2 separate regions of the Homo sapiens genome follow, and region 1 is linked to region 2. A link means that fine-mapping ties the variant in region 2 to the expression of a gene that starts in the linked region. Tissue or cell type: whole blood. Region 2 holds a variant in brackets; the other region holds the start of a gene. All regions are shown on one strand. Distances are between the middles of the regions.

Region 1 (8,101 bases), 42 kb after region 2:
GGCACTCACTTCCACACCATAGTCCTCCTTCCTCTACAGCTGCCTCCGTCTTTTCTGGAACCAAAACTCCACACAACTCCCTACACACTACAGTCCTCCCTGCCTGGTGCTCCTCCAAGAACTCCCCGTATGAGCCCACAACAGGCGCTCTCTGGGCACCCCTGAAGGTTGCAGTCCCAGCGCCTTTGATAAAGAAATGTGCTCAGTGTCTGCTCAGCCAAGAGCCCCTCAGACCCTTCCCACCCCTGACTTGCCTCAGCGTCGGGGCCACAGCCCCCAGGCCCTCAGTGCGCAGGTGAGAAGTACACACCTTACACCCAGGAGAGAGGCCTGATGACCGCCACAAGCCCTGAGGGTGCGGGAACCTCTTCAGGCCCCAAACTATGGAGCCAGCCACTAGCTCAACAGGACTGATCCCAGAGTTTGTTTCTCAAAATACATCAAGCGAGTGTTCCACTGAAAACAGAAGGCAAGCAAAGAGAAACAGCCACAAACATCAGGCACGAGTCTCAGATCCAGTCCCTTATAAAAGCTCACTTCCACCACTCAGCTCAACTCAGAGGTCACAGGATTTGCATCAGCAGAAGCTCCAGCGGAAAGAATGTGGATGCTGTGACATTCTGCTGAATGATCCCAAGTTCTTTTCTGAATCTGGAAGGAAAAGGAAAGAAGTGCCAAAAAGTTCACGCAAACAGTGCTGTGAGCTATTTAACAGATGCTTTTATTATCAAGAGCTGCAGAGGTGGGCCGGGACACCACCACGCTTCCACAGTGGGACCCTAGCCCAAACCAGCAGCCTGAGAGGCCGGGACACCATGCCTGAAACTCACTAGCAAGAACACTCTGAAAAAGCAAAAATGACAGCAGATTTACAAATCAACTAGCATATGTGGAAAGTGCATTTAAACTATCAAACCAGAACCCACCATATTAACTCAGGACTTCGGTCCTTTTTAATAATCAGTCATGTTCAAATACTGACTTCCTTTCAGTGTAGATAAGGTTATAAATCAACCTGAAAATGTACTACATATTGGAATTAAACCTCGTACCTGACAATCTGTGCTAAACACTAAACGAAATGTCAACACCCAAACAGGAAGTATGACAATGACTAGGAGAAAATCAGCCCACACCCAAAGATCCCGGGACACCTGAGGGTGTGACTGCTGCACTGCTGAGAGGCTCCAGCTTCAGCAGGTGTTGGAGCCAAGGGCGGCCCAGGCACCCACAACGTATCAGACACTTGATGTTATATTTTCACAGATTCCACATAGTAATCCGTCTTACAGGCAAAGACACTGAAGGCAGGAGCCAGTGGGAACCCACCCAGGACCCAAGAGCCCTGGTCTGGCGCACCACCTTCGCAAAGATGCTGTGACTCAGGAAGGCACGGCGCCAGCTGTGCCTGCACGGCCAGACAAGACATGGCTTGCATGGGGACATTAAAGAAATCACCTTGAGGAGATGGCAGCTTCCCTGCTTGAAGACAGCATAAGAACCTAAAATGTGTCAACAATTCCCTTATACAAAATGTCACTTTTGTAATTGGCTGAATGTACTAAAACTTTAAAAGTCGAGCAAGCTTTAATGACAAATCCAAGACCCAAAATTAGCCAGGTGTGGTGGCGGGCGCCTGTAGTCCCAGCTACTTGGGAGGCTGAGGCAGGAGAATGGTGTGAACCCGGGAGGCAGAGCTTGCAGTGAGCTGAGTTCGCGTTTGCAGTGAGCCGAGTTCGCGCCACTGCACTCCAGCCTGGGCGACAGAGCGAGACTCCATCTCAAAAAAAAAAAAATTCCAAGACCCATCTGCTGGCATCTCCTGGACGGCACAGAGGAGAGACACTGGGATGAAAGTCAAGTGGCATTTTTTTCACATTCAAACAGCACCTCTCATTAACATGTGGAACACAGCAGAGTCTGACCCTCTCAACGCACTCGAGGCGTGGAAGAAAAATGTCCTACGTGTGTACTCTAAGGCAGTGTGTGAAGTCCCCTGGAACTGAACTCAGAACGGAGACCTCAGAGTCTGGACTGTACGCCTGTCAGCACCCATGCCCCTCAGTCCTCCCTCTTCACACAGAGACCACCACTGAATCTGCCAGTAACAAAGGAGCTGGGTGGCAGGGAAGGTATTCTGGCAAAATCCTGAATGGTCAAACGGTAAATTACTTTATTTCAGAAAAAATGAAATGGCTTTGTAAACACTCAGGCTCACAAAAAAGAAAGTCTATTAGTTCTATATGTAGCAAAATCCCGAAATTCTGACACAGAGTAATGCAGCATGATTAGAATATTCTAAACGAAAATGTTAAATGAAAATCTTGATATTAAAAGGCAGTACAGGGTAGTGTTTAAGAGTGTGAACCCTGGAGCCTGGGTTCAAATCCATATTTCATAATTTACTGCTGTGTGGTTTAGGTAAGTTACTTAACCTCTCTGTTCCTTAGCTTCCTCATGAATGAACTAAGGATAATGTCAGTACCTGCCCAGTGGACTGTTGTGAAGATCACACAAAGAAAGTGAATACGACATGCTCGTAACAGTCCTGGAACAATCATTATTAAATATTATCGTCTGCTGGGGTAAGAGCTGTCATTAATAGATGGACACATGAAGAAAACAGGGTAAATTCTATGAGGGAGACTCAGTCACTCACTCACTCATTGCCACATTCTAAAAGACGACACTGTGGCAGGCACTGGGCTGGGCAGGGAGGAAGTGCCACCGACAAAGTTCCTGTCCTCAACAAGGGGAAGGTAACTGGCATTCCGGGGTGCGCACTAGGTGTCAGAGACTGTGGTAGAAAATGATTTCATGGCAGGGCGCGGTGGCTCGCACCTGGAATCCTAGCACTTTGGGAGGCTGAGGCAGGCGGATCCCTTGAGGTTAGGAGTTCGAGACCAGCCTGGCCAACATGGTAAAACCCCATCTCTACTAAAAATAAAAAAATTAGGCGGGCGTGGTGGCCGGCGCCTGTGGTCCCAGCTAGATGGGAGGCTAAGGCAGGAGAATGGCTTGAAGCCGGGAGACGGAGGTGGCAGTGAGTCAAGATCGCACCACTGCACTCCAGCCTGGGCAACAAAGCGAGACTCCATCTCAAAACATAAAACAAGAAAATGATCTCGTTTGCTTCTCTTATCAGCAAAGTGCTACATGTCCGGATGAAGGAGTTGAGGCTGACAGCCAGAAAAGAGGCCATGGGCACGAGTTAGGAAGGGCAGCAGGGACGGCCGTGGCTTCCCAGCATGTGGCCCCTGCACCAGTTCCGGGCTCCTCAACTCTCCGCTGTCCTCACCACACATCCAGCTGGTGGGAAGGCCGCACAGCACCCAGCCAGGCCCACAGCAGGCATTCGAGAAACGTCTATCCAACCAAACCGAATGGGACCCCTTCTCCAGGTGTTCCGGGCAGTCATCCCAAAGCTGCCGGAGCCAGGCTAGGCCAGGGCCTGTCCTAGAGGACGGTTCAGATAGAAACGCCCCTGGGAGGTGACCCTCACCCCAGGAGAGCCTGCAACACCCCGACACCCACTGCCTCGTCGCCGGTCCTCCCATGAAGCGGGGAGGCTGAGGTGCTGTGACGACCTAACAGTCTTGGTCTGGGCTTATAAACTTGGAAAGTCTAAAGACGTATTCTTCTGAGTACCAAAATATAACTGGCGAAAGAAGGAACCTCTTAAAATTACATTACCAAAGATAGGTTTTAGGTAGCAAGTTCTCAACCGTGTGTAGTCTGCTAAGATTTATAAATTAAAAACAAAAACAGAGCCCAGGGGAACGGACAAGGGCTCGCGGGCACCCTCCCCGGGACGACGTGCACACAGGCCTGCGGGACAAGAAGGCCAGGGTCGGAGTGGGACTGCGTCTCCCTGCCCTTCTTCCCGGCGGAACTCGCCCTCCTCACCTACAGGATCGCCCTAAATGCGCACGAAATCCTTCCCTGTTCCCGGTGAGGTGGTGAGAGAGGGCGAGGCCGCGAGCAGGTGCGCCCGTCCCCACTTCCTGCTCAGCGGGGCAGCAGGGGGGCTGGGGATCTCGGGGGGGCCGGGCCGGGGGTCCCGGGATCGCAGTTGCCGGGCGACCGCAGGGGGAAGGGTGCGGGGGCCGCGGGACCCAGGCCCAGGCCCCACGCCCGGCCGGAACTTTCCTCCCAAAGTTTCCCCGGGGCGCCAGGCTGCGGCCTAGGCCGGGCGCGCCTCCCAGTGGGGGTCGAGGCCGGGGCCGGGGCCGGGGCTGGAGGCGGCCTGCGGACCCGGGTCCTGCCCGGCCCGCCCTCCCCTCCCCGCCCCGGCTCCAGCCCCAGCCCGCGGCCCAGGCCCCGCAGCTCGCCGGGGTCCCGGGCCTTCGCGTGGCGGCGGCGGGGGCCACTCACCTGGACGCGGGTCCCTCGGTTGCCGGCCGAGCTCACTGCCGCCCCGCCCCCGCCCCGTAGGCCCGCGACCCACTGACACCGAGGCGGAAGTGCGGCCCGCCGCCTCGCCGACTGACAGCCCGCGCCCGCCACTCGCTGCGCCCGGCGCCGCCGCGTCGGCCGCTGCCTGCCCAATCAGCGCCCGGCCCGAGGCTCGCGCCGGGGGGTGGGACTATGCTAATCCCTTCGCGAAGGGCCTCTACCTGTGCCCCCTCAGAGCCCCGCCCACGCAGCGGAGTGACGGCAAGGACAGCCAGTCACAGCAGGAGAGAGGCGGGGTTATGCCGCCCCTGAGCCAAAAGGGGAGGGAGGCAAGGAGGAAAGGGCGTGGCTGCAGAGAGCAGAGTTGACAAACAGTGAGTCAGGTGGCCCGGGGCGTGGGTGCTCCGCCCTCAGGTGCACTGCGTCCTGGCGGCAGTGCGGGCCTGCGAGGCTACCCAAAGCCCTGGGGGCTTTTTCCTACAAATGCTGGGGACCGTGCGATAGCTGGGGCGTAGCTGCTTCCACTGTCCTACCAAATCCTGAATATCGTCCACCTCCTTTGCATGCCATTCACCGCCAACCAAAATCCAGCGCCAATTTACCCCTCCAGCTGCATCCCCGACCGTTTCACCACCATACTTAAAACCCTTTGGACTCCCACTGACCTACAGTGGCTCCAGGGTTAAGCCCAGAAGTTCTGGAATCAGACCTGGAGCTTGCATTCTTTACCAGCTGTGTGGATTTGGACAAATTAATTAACCTCTCTGAGTCTGTGATCACTCAGTTTCATCTGCAAACCAGGGTTCCCCTGTCAACATCTCATTGAAGTCATGGGTCTGGTTTGAGGTGAGTGGAGTGGCATAAACCAGGCTGGCTACATAGTCACAGCAGTTGGTTTAGGGGTCAGCCTGTGACCCAGTTCTAGCCAAAGAGGCTCAGTCCTGGGACTTTTGCTGTAGGGTCAGAGTTCAGACCGGAGGGGAGGCTGAAGTCAAATGACTCTCCCATCTGCCCACAGACCTCTCCAGAGCTGGGTTAGGTGAGAGAGGGAAGGGGCCAGTCTTCCACATCTCACTACCCGAGAACAGGGCTGCACGAGAATGAAGCCAGCCCAGAGGAAAGCCGGAGCAACCACGGCCGGGTCACGTGGACCCTGCTGCACCTCAGCAGGTCCTTTCCTTGACTTTTCAGTTACGTGAACCACATGCTTGTTTCTGCTTCAGCCCATTTGAGGTAAAGCCAAGAGTCCTGGGCTTCCTGTGGCCTTGAGAGCTCTGGCAGATGACCCGTGACCCCGCAGTGCGTCCTGCAGCAAAGCCAGCCCCCGTTGGGCCTCTGCACCCCCTCCTCAGGCCTTGTCTCCCCACTTCCAGGCTGCCCCTAGCAGGGCCATGGAGGCAGGGACAGGCCTTTGCCCCATCTGTGGCCCCGTGGCAGACGTGGGTACTCTCTATAAATTTCAGGGCATGAGTGAGCCAATGAACGTGGCCTCTGTGGCAGGGGTGGGGCCCAGGCCACATCTCTGGGCCCAGCAGGGCCGTTCTCCCCCACCCCAGGGGCTGGCCCCACTCACTGGTGGGCCACTGTCAGTCGGCGCCACTAGAGACGTGCCGGGACCAGGAAGGAGCTGGCTGAGCCTCTCCTGAAGAGAGAACGGGGAGGAGGGCGGGCAGGCCTCAGAAACAAAGGGGTTGCCATGGTTACCTCTGAAGAAAGCGACTCCAGCCGGTGAAAGGGAAGGGAAGGCGTGCGGCCCCCAAGCCAGGACAAGGACGATGAGGCCAGTTGCCACGGAGATGACTGCGCTCCACAGCTTTCCCTGTGGGCCTTGCCAGGGCCAGCTCAGGGTCCCAGAAACCCATCACTCTCCATGTCCCTCACCCTAAGTCTCTAAGACTCTAACCCCTGTGCCCTTGAGGGGATCCAACCTGCCCACCCACCCCTTGACCACGAGCTCTGCAGTGAGGGCAGCCTCAGAGGCTCAGGCAGAAGGACCCTCTCATCTGCCCAGGGACCACCCCAGGGCCAAGCAGGGAGATCCACCCTGGCCTTGGGGTTGGGGGTGTGATCTCAGATGGCCCCTGGGCTGGAGCAGGGGTTTCACCCCTCTCCACAAATGCAGTAACTGAGCTTCAAGGGTAGTCTGCCGTCAGCCAGCACTGCTGGAGACGTGCCAGGACTGGGAAGGGTACTTCCTCCCCGGGGCCAGTTGCTGGGACTAGGCGAGAATCCTCCCTCAGTTGGTGGGTAGTAAGGAGGGTGCCTTGAGACCAACTTAGGCGTCTTTGTTATGATCTTTACTAGGTCACGAGGCCAATTCAAGAGGCACAGTTCTCCAAGGATGGAAGATGGGGGTGGAGAAGGCAACAAAGATGGATGAGCTGGGGCCATGATGATGAGGATGATGATGTTGATGATGATGATGGTGATGGCGGCCGAGTGCCCTGTGATTTACAGGCCCATCTGGTTTCATGTTTGCAACAGCCAATCAAGTGGGTACCAGGTGCCATCATTCCCACTTTACAGATGAGAAGACTGAGCCCCAGACAGGTTAAGTGACTCCCCCAGCCCTGCAATGAGGAAGGGCCCAGCACAGCTCCAGGCACAACAAGCAGGCACTCCAAGCATAGGGAGGTCTGGTGGACCAGGCCTGGCCCAGGAGCTTGTCGGCAAGGCAGAGCCGCATCCAGGCTCCCGGACCAGGATCCGCACACGAACAACAGGCCCAGGAGTTCCCATGGCTGTGGCTGCTGGACCCCCGCACCAGGTGGGCTGGCGGCTGTGTCCCACACATGCTCTCTAGAGCCTGAGAAATGCTCATCCTGCAGGTGATTTGGGGGGTGTCTGCTCCCACCTTCACTGCTCTCAGACCAAATTTCTGCTTCCTGACAGAATTTGTAGGATCCTCCCTCTGTCCTCTTAGCCAAGGAGGGGAGAAGCTCTCTCCCTCCCTCACCATGGGGGAGGTCACCAGTGGGTGGATTTCATGACCCACATACCTCCCAGGGCTGGCATGCGGGGTCCAGCAGTCCCAGCCACAACTATGTCATCCCGCTTCCTTTCCTCTCACGGTGAAGGAGGCGGAAGAGAGGTTGTTGCTCCCACCTTTTGGATGGGGAAACTGAGGCTTAGAGAGCAGAAGCAGCTTGCCCAGGGCCTGGCAGCACCAGTCCCGCCTACGACCCACCGCCCTTTCCCCCGCTCCACTCTTACCTCCTCCCCCAGGTTTCTGGGTCTGGGTTTATCTCTTTATCTGGGTCTGCACCCACAGCTGCCCCATTAGATCAAACAGGGCTTGGCTTCCAGGAACGCCGGGTGCCTTGGCATTGCTGGCCTGGCTGGCAGCTGCTGGCTGGTGAGCCCCAGCTGAGGCTGTCTCCTCTCCCCAGGCACTCCCCAGGCCTTTAGAGAGGACATTCTCCCACTCTCTTTTATGGAAAGCCATGGAATCTTCTGTGTGGATGCAGCCTGGGCAGTCAGAGAGGGGCCTGGCCCTCACGTGGCCGCAGCTGACCCCTCCCCGCCGCAGCTCTCCAGTCTCCTCTGCGACGTGACAGCCCTGGCTTCTCTGCTGTGGGGAGGAGAGTATTTTTAGTTTTGAACCCACCACGTGAAGCGAGACAAGTTATCAATAGCAGCAGCAAAGGGCTTTTTCTTTCTCTCTCTCTTTTTTTTTTTTCCCATGTCTTTGGGACCTGAACAATCT
Region 2 (8,000 bases):
AACACTTGGGATCCGGAGGAGGCTGAATGTTTCCGTTAAATAAATATTGAACATTTCAGGTTTGGTACATTCCAATTCATTATGTAGAAAATAGGACACCTCTTTTGAACTATCCCTTTTATTTTTAAGTTCAAGAACAACTAGTCTTAAGATAATGAGTATTCCAAAGCTTTAAGGGGAAAAGCCTTGCCAGTACTTTCTGGCTGTTGAATATATTATCTGGTACTCACAACTAAAAACAAAAAATTGAAATTCACTTGATTTTTAACAATATGTCTAGGCTAACTCAAAGAAAGCGAGAAGATTTATTAAGAAGGACCCAGAACTTGGAGCTTCCAGAAAAGAAACGGCCTTGCCTGAGGTTCCCTCAGATACTTCCAGCCATGGGGGCCAGCAATTATGTATGACTCGTGGGCACTGGTGCCCACGGTTTATAGCAGCAGCCTCCGTGCAACCAAAATACAGATATGCCGGCTGGGTGTTGTGGTTCATGCCTATTAGTAATCCCAGCACTTTGGGAGGCCGAGGTGGGAGGACTGCTTAAGCCCAGGAGTTCAAGACCAGCCTGGGCAACATAGCAAGACCCCATCTCTAAAAAAAATAAAAATTAGTCAGGCATGGTGGTACATGCCTATAGTCCTAGCCACTTGGGAGGCTAAGGAGGGAGGATTGCTTGAGCCTGGTAGCTGGAGGTTGCAGTGAGTTATGACTGCACCACTGTACTCCAGCCTGGGCAACAGAGGGAGACCCTGCCTGGAGGGGAAAAAAAAAAAAAATGGAAAGAAATACAGATAAACCCCCTCACTGATACTGGAACCCACAATATATGGTTCATCTGGACAGACAAATTCTGCACATTCATCTCTCCTGGTGGGGCCCAAAGGTTCCCTGGGACCCCAACAGGTGAGCTAAAGGCAGCAGCGGCCTGGCAGCCCTCAGCACCCAGGGCTCAGCTCTGCCCGGGGACGCCCCAGCCCTTACCAGCTTGGCCTTTCTCAGGTGGTCACCTCTCCTCTCCTGCTTCTTGAAGGATTCATACGAAACAGGATCTATGCCCCACAAACATTCCGTCCATTTGCCATAGATCATAAAGAGCTTCTTTTTGCTGTAATTAAATGGGATTTTTAAAGACAAGTCTTAGTCATTACAAACCATTTGTCTAAACATGTGGCACCCTGGAATAAATTCCCCTCAGGTATGTTTTCTTATGCATCTTGGGACATCTCTGGACATAAATGCGAAGGTGAAAATTTGCATTCTGGGACCATTCGTAGCCCCGATACACACCACGGAAAGGAAAATGAAGGGCCGGAAACCTAAAGGATGGACAGCCCACCGGGCTGCAGGAGATGGGAAGGGACAGAAACCCAAAAGAGAGATGGCCCATGGGACTGCAGGAGACGGGAAGGGATGGAAACCCAAAGGATGGTTGGTCCAGGGGGCTGCAGGAGACGGGAAGGGGCAAAAAAGAGTGAGCGTTTTAAAATGTAAAGCTGCATGCGCCCACTGATCATTTTCAACACACTCAATGTGTTGTGTGTGTGTCCTTCAGCCCTTTTCTATCAATCAGTGCAGTCAATGCTGCTTGCTTGATCTTTGGTTCCCCGCCTGCCTTTTTTCATCAATAACAACCCAGAGACCTTTGCAGAGTGGCCACCAGAGCTCTCGATTCTAAAAGGGATGAAGCCAAATAGTGCCAGACTCCATTTTCTTTCTCCTTTCGCCTCTTGCTGGGAAGAGTCAACCGTGACCACAGACTCCCGGGAAGTGCAACTCTGACAGACTCGGGACCCAGGAGGGGACGGTGTCACTGCAGTGCCTGCAGAGCCAGCACACAGACGCGGGGAACTGGGCCAGGCCTCACCTAGTAGACAGCCTGGGGACAACTCTGTCTCCAAGGACAGAGCACCCTTAAATTTAGGATGGAAAACCAGACAACCAAAACACACTTTACATGCACTCACTGAAGGTCAGCGAGTCTGGCCTCGGGGTCCCTGCCCGGTTCTGGAAAAACATGTTTTACATGCACTCACTGAGGGTCAGCGAGTGTTGGCCTCGGCGCCCCCGCCTATTTCTGGAAACAGACAGCCAGCTGCTCCCTGGGCTGAGTTCCAAGGGGGAGAGGTGTCAAGGCACTGATGACTGCTACCCTGTTGTAAGACTGCTGTCCCTTCTAGGTCCACATGTTGATCCTCACATGTTTTATGGGAGAAATGGTCAGTCATAAGCCTGGCCATTTTATTTTATAGGCTGTTCAAACGGGTGCATTTCTGGTCTACCATAGAGGGTGGACAGAGCAGAAACACCAACTGTCTTATTTTTTTGAGACAGCCTCTTGCTTGGCTGCCCCGGCTGGAGCGCATTGGCGTGATCTTGGCTCACTGCAACCTCCATCTCCCAGGCTCAAGAGATTCTTGTGCCTCAGCCTCCTGAGTAGCTGGGATTACAGATGTGCGCCATCACACCTGGCTAATTTTCGTATTTTTAGTAGAGACGGGGTTTTACCATGTTGGCCAGGCTGGTCTCGAACTCCTGACCTCAGGTGATCTGCCCACCTCAGAAGTGATGGGATTACAGGCATGAGCCACTGCACCTGGCCCTGACTGTTTTAAATTGGGGACTAGTTTCTAATGGGAAATGTCTACATTTTTGGAACTAGAAGGAACTTCATGACATTCTATGGCTCAAATTCCTTACGAAAAAAACAAATGTGAGACCCAGATTACAAAGTAATTAACCCAAATGGGGAGAAAAAAACTGAAAAATTTGTTGGAACAGTACTGACCATTTCTCTGCTCACAAAAACTTGCGAAAGTCCCTGATTTAAAGACTGGAGTGAACTGGTCACGTGACACTGACGCCCCTCAAGCTAACACATTTGAGTCTTGCCTGACAACGTGCATGGGGTGCTGGTAGAAGGAAAACGCAAGGCCACACTTCCCACCCACCTCAGCTCTGCTGCGAAACAGTCCCCTCTCATCTCCCAGTGGAAATAGCTGACTTCTCAAGACAATTTTATCAAAAGAAGATGGCCCCAGTAACAAGCCACCTAGAAACTACATTCAAAAATACCCTTTATTTCCTTTTATGCTCAATAACAAAATGTCTTTCCAAAACAAAAAAGAGTCATACTTCTGGACCATGAACAGATGGCACTGGTGTACCCGCGTCTCATGCACGTAGGCACACGCAGGCCCAGGAGCACCTGAGCCCTTCTAACGTGGACACACAGGCTGTAGTGGTGCCCCATGAACACTTGGCAAGGACCTACTTTTTGTCTTGAATGTGTCCTTCCACCTTGTGAAGTTCTTTTCCAAATAATCCACACGGTTTAAAGTGAAGCACACACTTATGTCCAGTTCTGTGAGAAAAACAAACACAGGTTTCTGCTGCAAGACAGCAAACAGCCGGAAAGGGTAACTCTGTAACAGGAGAAGCGCGGTGGAGGCCCCTGGGGCAGGCGGGGGGTGACTGCAAATGGGTGTGGTGGGCCTTTGGGGCGATGGAAGTGTTTGAAATGGGCTGTGGGGACGGCTCCATGATTCGGTCAATTTACTAAAAATCACTTAAGTGTCCATTCAGAATGGGCGAGTCTTATGATGCATCGATTATACCTCACTAAAGTGGTGAAAAGGCAAAGCCCACCAGTCATGAGCTTCCAGGAATAGGGCATTCAAGCCTAGACAGTGGCCAACGGCCGTGGACGGCCACTGCGCTGCACCTGGCAATGACACAGCTCTTCAGCATAGCTCAAAGCCTTAAAGTAACAACCGTGACGAAAAACGAGGTCTTGAACGAGGAGCATTCATGGCCAACACCGGTCAGAGTCAAGTCTAGGCAGCTGCTATGCCTGGGCTGGCGGGGACACGGCAGCAGCTCGTGAGGCTGAGCTAAAACCCACCAGGAGCACGGATGCTCACGCTCCCCGGCTCGCCCATCCCCACCCGGAGCCTCGCGCTCTCACCCAACGGTGGGGTGCTGTCACCTGTGGTTTAAAATCTCCACTGTCCCATACTGCTCTATCCACAGCTTCCCGATGATGACGTTGTGGACGCAGCAGGTGGGGTTGGTCCAGGTGTAGGCTTCATTATGTCTGTGAAGACACCAGAAAACAAGCAGTGAGAGTCCAGAAAAGCCAAGACACGACGTGACCCAAGACGCAACGACCAGGCGGGGCTGGGTCACAGCAAC[C/T]GGCACCCGCGGGAGAGCAGCACGCTGCTTTGAAGCCCCTGCGACGGAGGCTGTGTATTTAGCATGCGTTTGAAATGTACTTCTTCTTTCCTTTGTAGCATCTACAAAGCTTTCTACTTAAATGTCAAGACAAGTTAATAAGCAATCAAAGAAGACTGAACAAAGACAAATGGCTTTCCTGTGAAGTCGTCAAAAGAAAGGCCACCTCACGAAACACACACGGCAGTAATGCAGGGTCCTGGGCATGCGGCCCTGGCTTTCTGGGGAGCTGGCACATGGCTGTGGAGGGGTGCAGGGTTTTCAACCGCACTCCACATACTTGTTTCCTTTACTCCTCATCCTCCCAAATGGCCCTGCCCAAGAAGAAAACACCCCACCAATGTGAGGCAGCAGATCAGCAGCCCTATGTTCTAAGGTGCTACGTGGGGGAGCCACAGTGAAGGCAGAAATCTGCTCAGAGCAGGGTATTTTGCCACACGTCTGGAATTCTCTCAATTTCCTGGGGGTGGAACCCAAACTGGTTCATCAGCAAGGTTATCAGCAAGGTGTGCAACTTTATCAGCAAGGTGTGCAACTTCTCATTTCTGCATGCCTCTTAATTAAGCAAGGCCACTGCACAACAGGCACTCGGCCATACCAGCCCCAGGACACACTCTCAGGGGCTTCTCCAGGTCCTTGTGGAACCTTCTAGCCACCATCCAGGCAGGGCCAATGTGAAGCAAAACCCAAATCAAATGCTTCATCAGGCAAGGTGTCGTTTATTACTTATTTCTGTATGTATTTGTTAGGACCTGCTGCCTACAACAAGACTGCAGGCAGTGGCTTGGCAAGACTCACGTCTCAGAACTGGTGGCCCAGGAGGACGCCAGCATCCGGTCTGTGTCTGTCGGGTCTTAGCGGCCGGCATTTGTTGGAGACTTGTGTTTTGCTCTGAGGTGTCTTTGGTTGACACTGGATTGGGGAGCATTTAGGCTGAGAGTGAAGAGGGGTGGCAAGCAGCCTCTCAGAGGGTCCCCTCCCACGCTGTTTCAAATTCCAACCCTAAGTCACCCCTGCCACATGAGCACAGGGTGGGGGAGTGTGCAAAGGGCCACTTCCCTGGCTTCCTTCTCAGCTCTCTCCCCCTGTGGGAGGCAGTGCCCTGCAGCAAGCAGCCCAGAAGGGGAGCCAGGACACAGGCGCCATGGGCAACCCAACCCTCATTGCCACCGCAACCTCACGGTCCCCGGCCCTCAGACACCTGCCAGCCTGGTGTGGAAGCTGCTAAGTTTGGGACAGTTATGCAGCAAAAGACAAGAAATACAATGAATGATGCCGGAAAGCGGGGTGAGTTCCAACTGCAGACGTGAGGATGCACCCCAGCAACATGGGACCCTGGTCATACAATGAATGATGTGACCGAAAGGGGGGCGAATTCCAACTGCAGACGTGAGGACGCACCCCAGCAACACGGGACCCTGGTCAGGAAGCTCATCTGAAGACGTTTCTGCTGTGGGGAGGTCCCCACCTCAGGAGAAAAATGACAGGGTTTCCTCCTGAAGGAAGCTTTCCCTCCACATCACCAGCACCCATTTCAGTTTCTGCAGGAAGCGGATCTCAGCAGGACGCACCGACACTCACTTGAGCAGCTCCAGGGTGATGGTGCCTCGGGGCTCCGCCTCCACGCTTTTGCCCCAGAACTTGAGCTTGGGGTAGATGGAGCCATGGAACAGGAAGTCATGGTTGAGACCTTCCGAGTGGAACGCACTGATGGGGGGGTGGTGACTGACCTGTTCCGATATAAATCTGAATCCTAAATCTTCCCTAGGTCAAAGAATAAAAAAGAGAGACACATTAATGGCAGCAAAATAAAAGAAAGGGCAGCTCAGACATCATGTGGAGCCCCTCACAGGACGCTGGGAAGCAGGGGCCCTCCATGCCACAACATGTGGCGGAAACACCCAACACCACCTCTCCGACATTGCACTTGGCCTAACGTTGGCAACAGACACACACACAAACATGACATCGCACTTGGCCTAACGTTGGCAACAGACACACACACACAAACATGACATTGCACTTGGCCTAACGTTGGCAACAAACACACACACAAACATGACATCGCACTCGGCCTAACGGCAACAGACACACACACAAACACGATATCGCACTCGGCCTAACGTTGGCAACACACACACAAACATGACATCGCACTCGGCCTAACGTTGGCAACACACACACAAACATGACATCGCACTTGGCCTAATGTTGGCAACAGACACACACACACAAACATGACATTGCACTTGGCCTAACGTTGGCAACACACACACAAACATGACATCGCACTTGGCCTAACATTGGCAACAGACACACACACAAACATGACATCGCACTCGGCCTAACGTTGGCAACAGACACACACACAAACATGACATCGCACTCGGCCTAACGTTGGCAACACACACATAAACATGACATCGCACTTGGCCTAATGTTGGCAACAGACACACACACAAACATGACATCACACTTGGCCTAACGTTGGCAACACACACACAAACATGACATCGCACTTGGCCTAATGTTGGCAACAGACATACACACAAACACGACATCGCACTTGGCCTAATGTTGGCAACAGACACACACACAAACACGACATCGCACTTGGCCTAACGCTGGCAACAGACACACACACAAACATGACATCGCACTCGGCCTAACGTTGGCAACAGACACACACACAAACATGACATCGCACTTGGCCTAACGCTGGCAACAGACACACACACACATGGCTTCCAGAGCACATCTGACCCACCCAGAGAGCGCAATGGTGCAGGAGAGGCCTCCACCCTGATGCCCCGCTTGCTCTCCACCTGAGCCACAGCAGTGTCTGGCTAGAGGTACCCAGAGACGCAGGTGGAGAAGCAATCCTTACACACCTCTGACTCCAAACCCTCAACCCCGAGGGACTCCCATTGCCCAGGAACTCAGGACCCTAAACCCTTTCTGAAGGGGGTGCCCCTTCCTTGTCTTTCTACAAGGCCCCTGAAATTTCCGAGATGGAATGGCTTATACCCCAAAATACTCCTGTCCAGGAACAGGATTTTTAGTGTACTCTCTTTTTCAATCAAAATGTCAGCTTTTAATTGTTCCGGAACTGTGAATACACCTACAGTTGTAGTCATTAAAAATTAGAAAAGCTAAACCACATAATTACCAACTTAACTGGAATCAGAATTTCCAATCATTACAGAAGAAAGAAAGTTGAAAAATTAGATTTTAAAAGGTTGACTACCAAGGTATGTAATTTACAAAATGAATACTTGTCTGAGAAAAGAATGTGTATTTTTAGCTATAACAAGGGATCTGTAGGGATCCAGGGTATCAGGAAAGGACTTGGTCCACGTCCATGGCCCCTAACCTGACAGACTGCCAGGGTCTCACAGACACACAGCACATGGCAGACACTGGCAAGGACGATCTGGAAGTGAACTCATGACAGACGACGTGTCTCGGCGTTGCGAAGGTGCATAGCTTGCTTCTGGCTGTGCAGCAGGAGCTCCGGCCCCGGGTGCAGCCCCTGGGGAAGGGTGCTGGCGGCACGCCCCGCTCTACCCAGCCCAGGCGGCTTGCATTCCTTTCACCCACAAGGCTTCTTCTCTATCATCTAGAACTTCTTTCCTCTTCTGATTTATCTTTTTCTTTTTCTTTTTTTGAGATGGAATCTCAAAATCTCTGTCGCCCAGGCTGGAGTGCAGTGGCGTGATCTCGGCTCACTGCAACCTCCGCCTCCAGGTTCAAGTGATTCTCCAGCCTCA

Evidence for each region. PIP is the estimated chance that this variant, and not a neighbour inherited with it, causes the effect.
Region 1: it holds the start of OSBPL2, and the variant in region 2 is fine-mapped to the expression of OSBPL2 in whole blood (INTERVAL, PIP 0.94).

What each region holds. Positions count from the first base shown.
Region 1 is chr20:62,234,871-62,242,971 of GRCh38, reverse strand. It overlaps OSBPL2 (oxysterol binding protein like 2), which reads right to left and starts at 4,451. Exons shown (of 14, transcript NM_144498.4): 1 at 4,375-4,451. LOC105369209 (a long non-coding RNA gene) reads right to left here. Exons shown (of 4, transcript NR_160555.1): 3 at 7,609-7,966; 4 at 6,671-7,500. RefSeq lists an enhancer at 2,702-3,626 and a silencer at 4,324-4,723.
Region 2 is chr20:62,277,151-62,285,150 of GRCh38, reverse strand. OSBPL2 (oxysterol binding protein like 2) reads right to left here. Exons shown (of 14, transcript NM_144498.4): 7 at 5,812-5,994; 8 at 3,986-4,093; 9 at 3,272-3,361; 10 at 982-1,105. Among named protein-coding and RNA genes, the nearest start is that of ADRM1, 22 kb to the left of the region's middle. RefSeq lists an enhancer at 5,718-6,218. The variant C/T (reference allele first, on the strand shown) is at 4,192.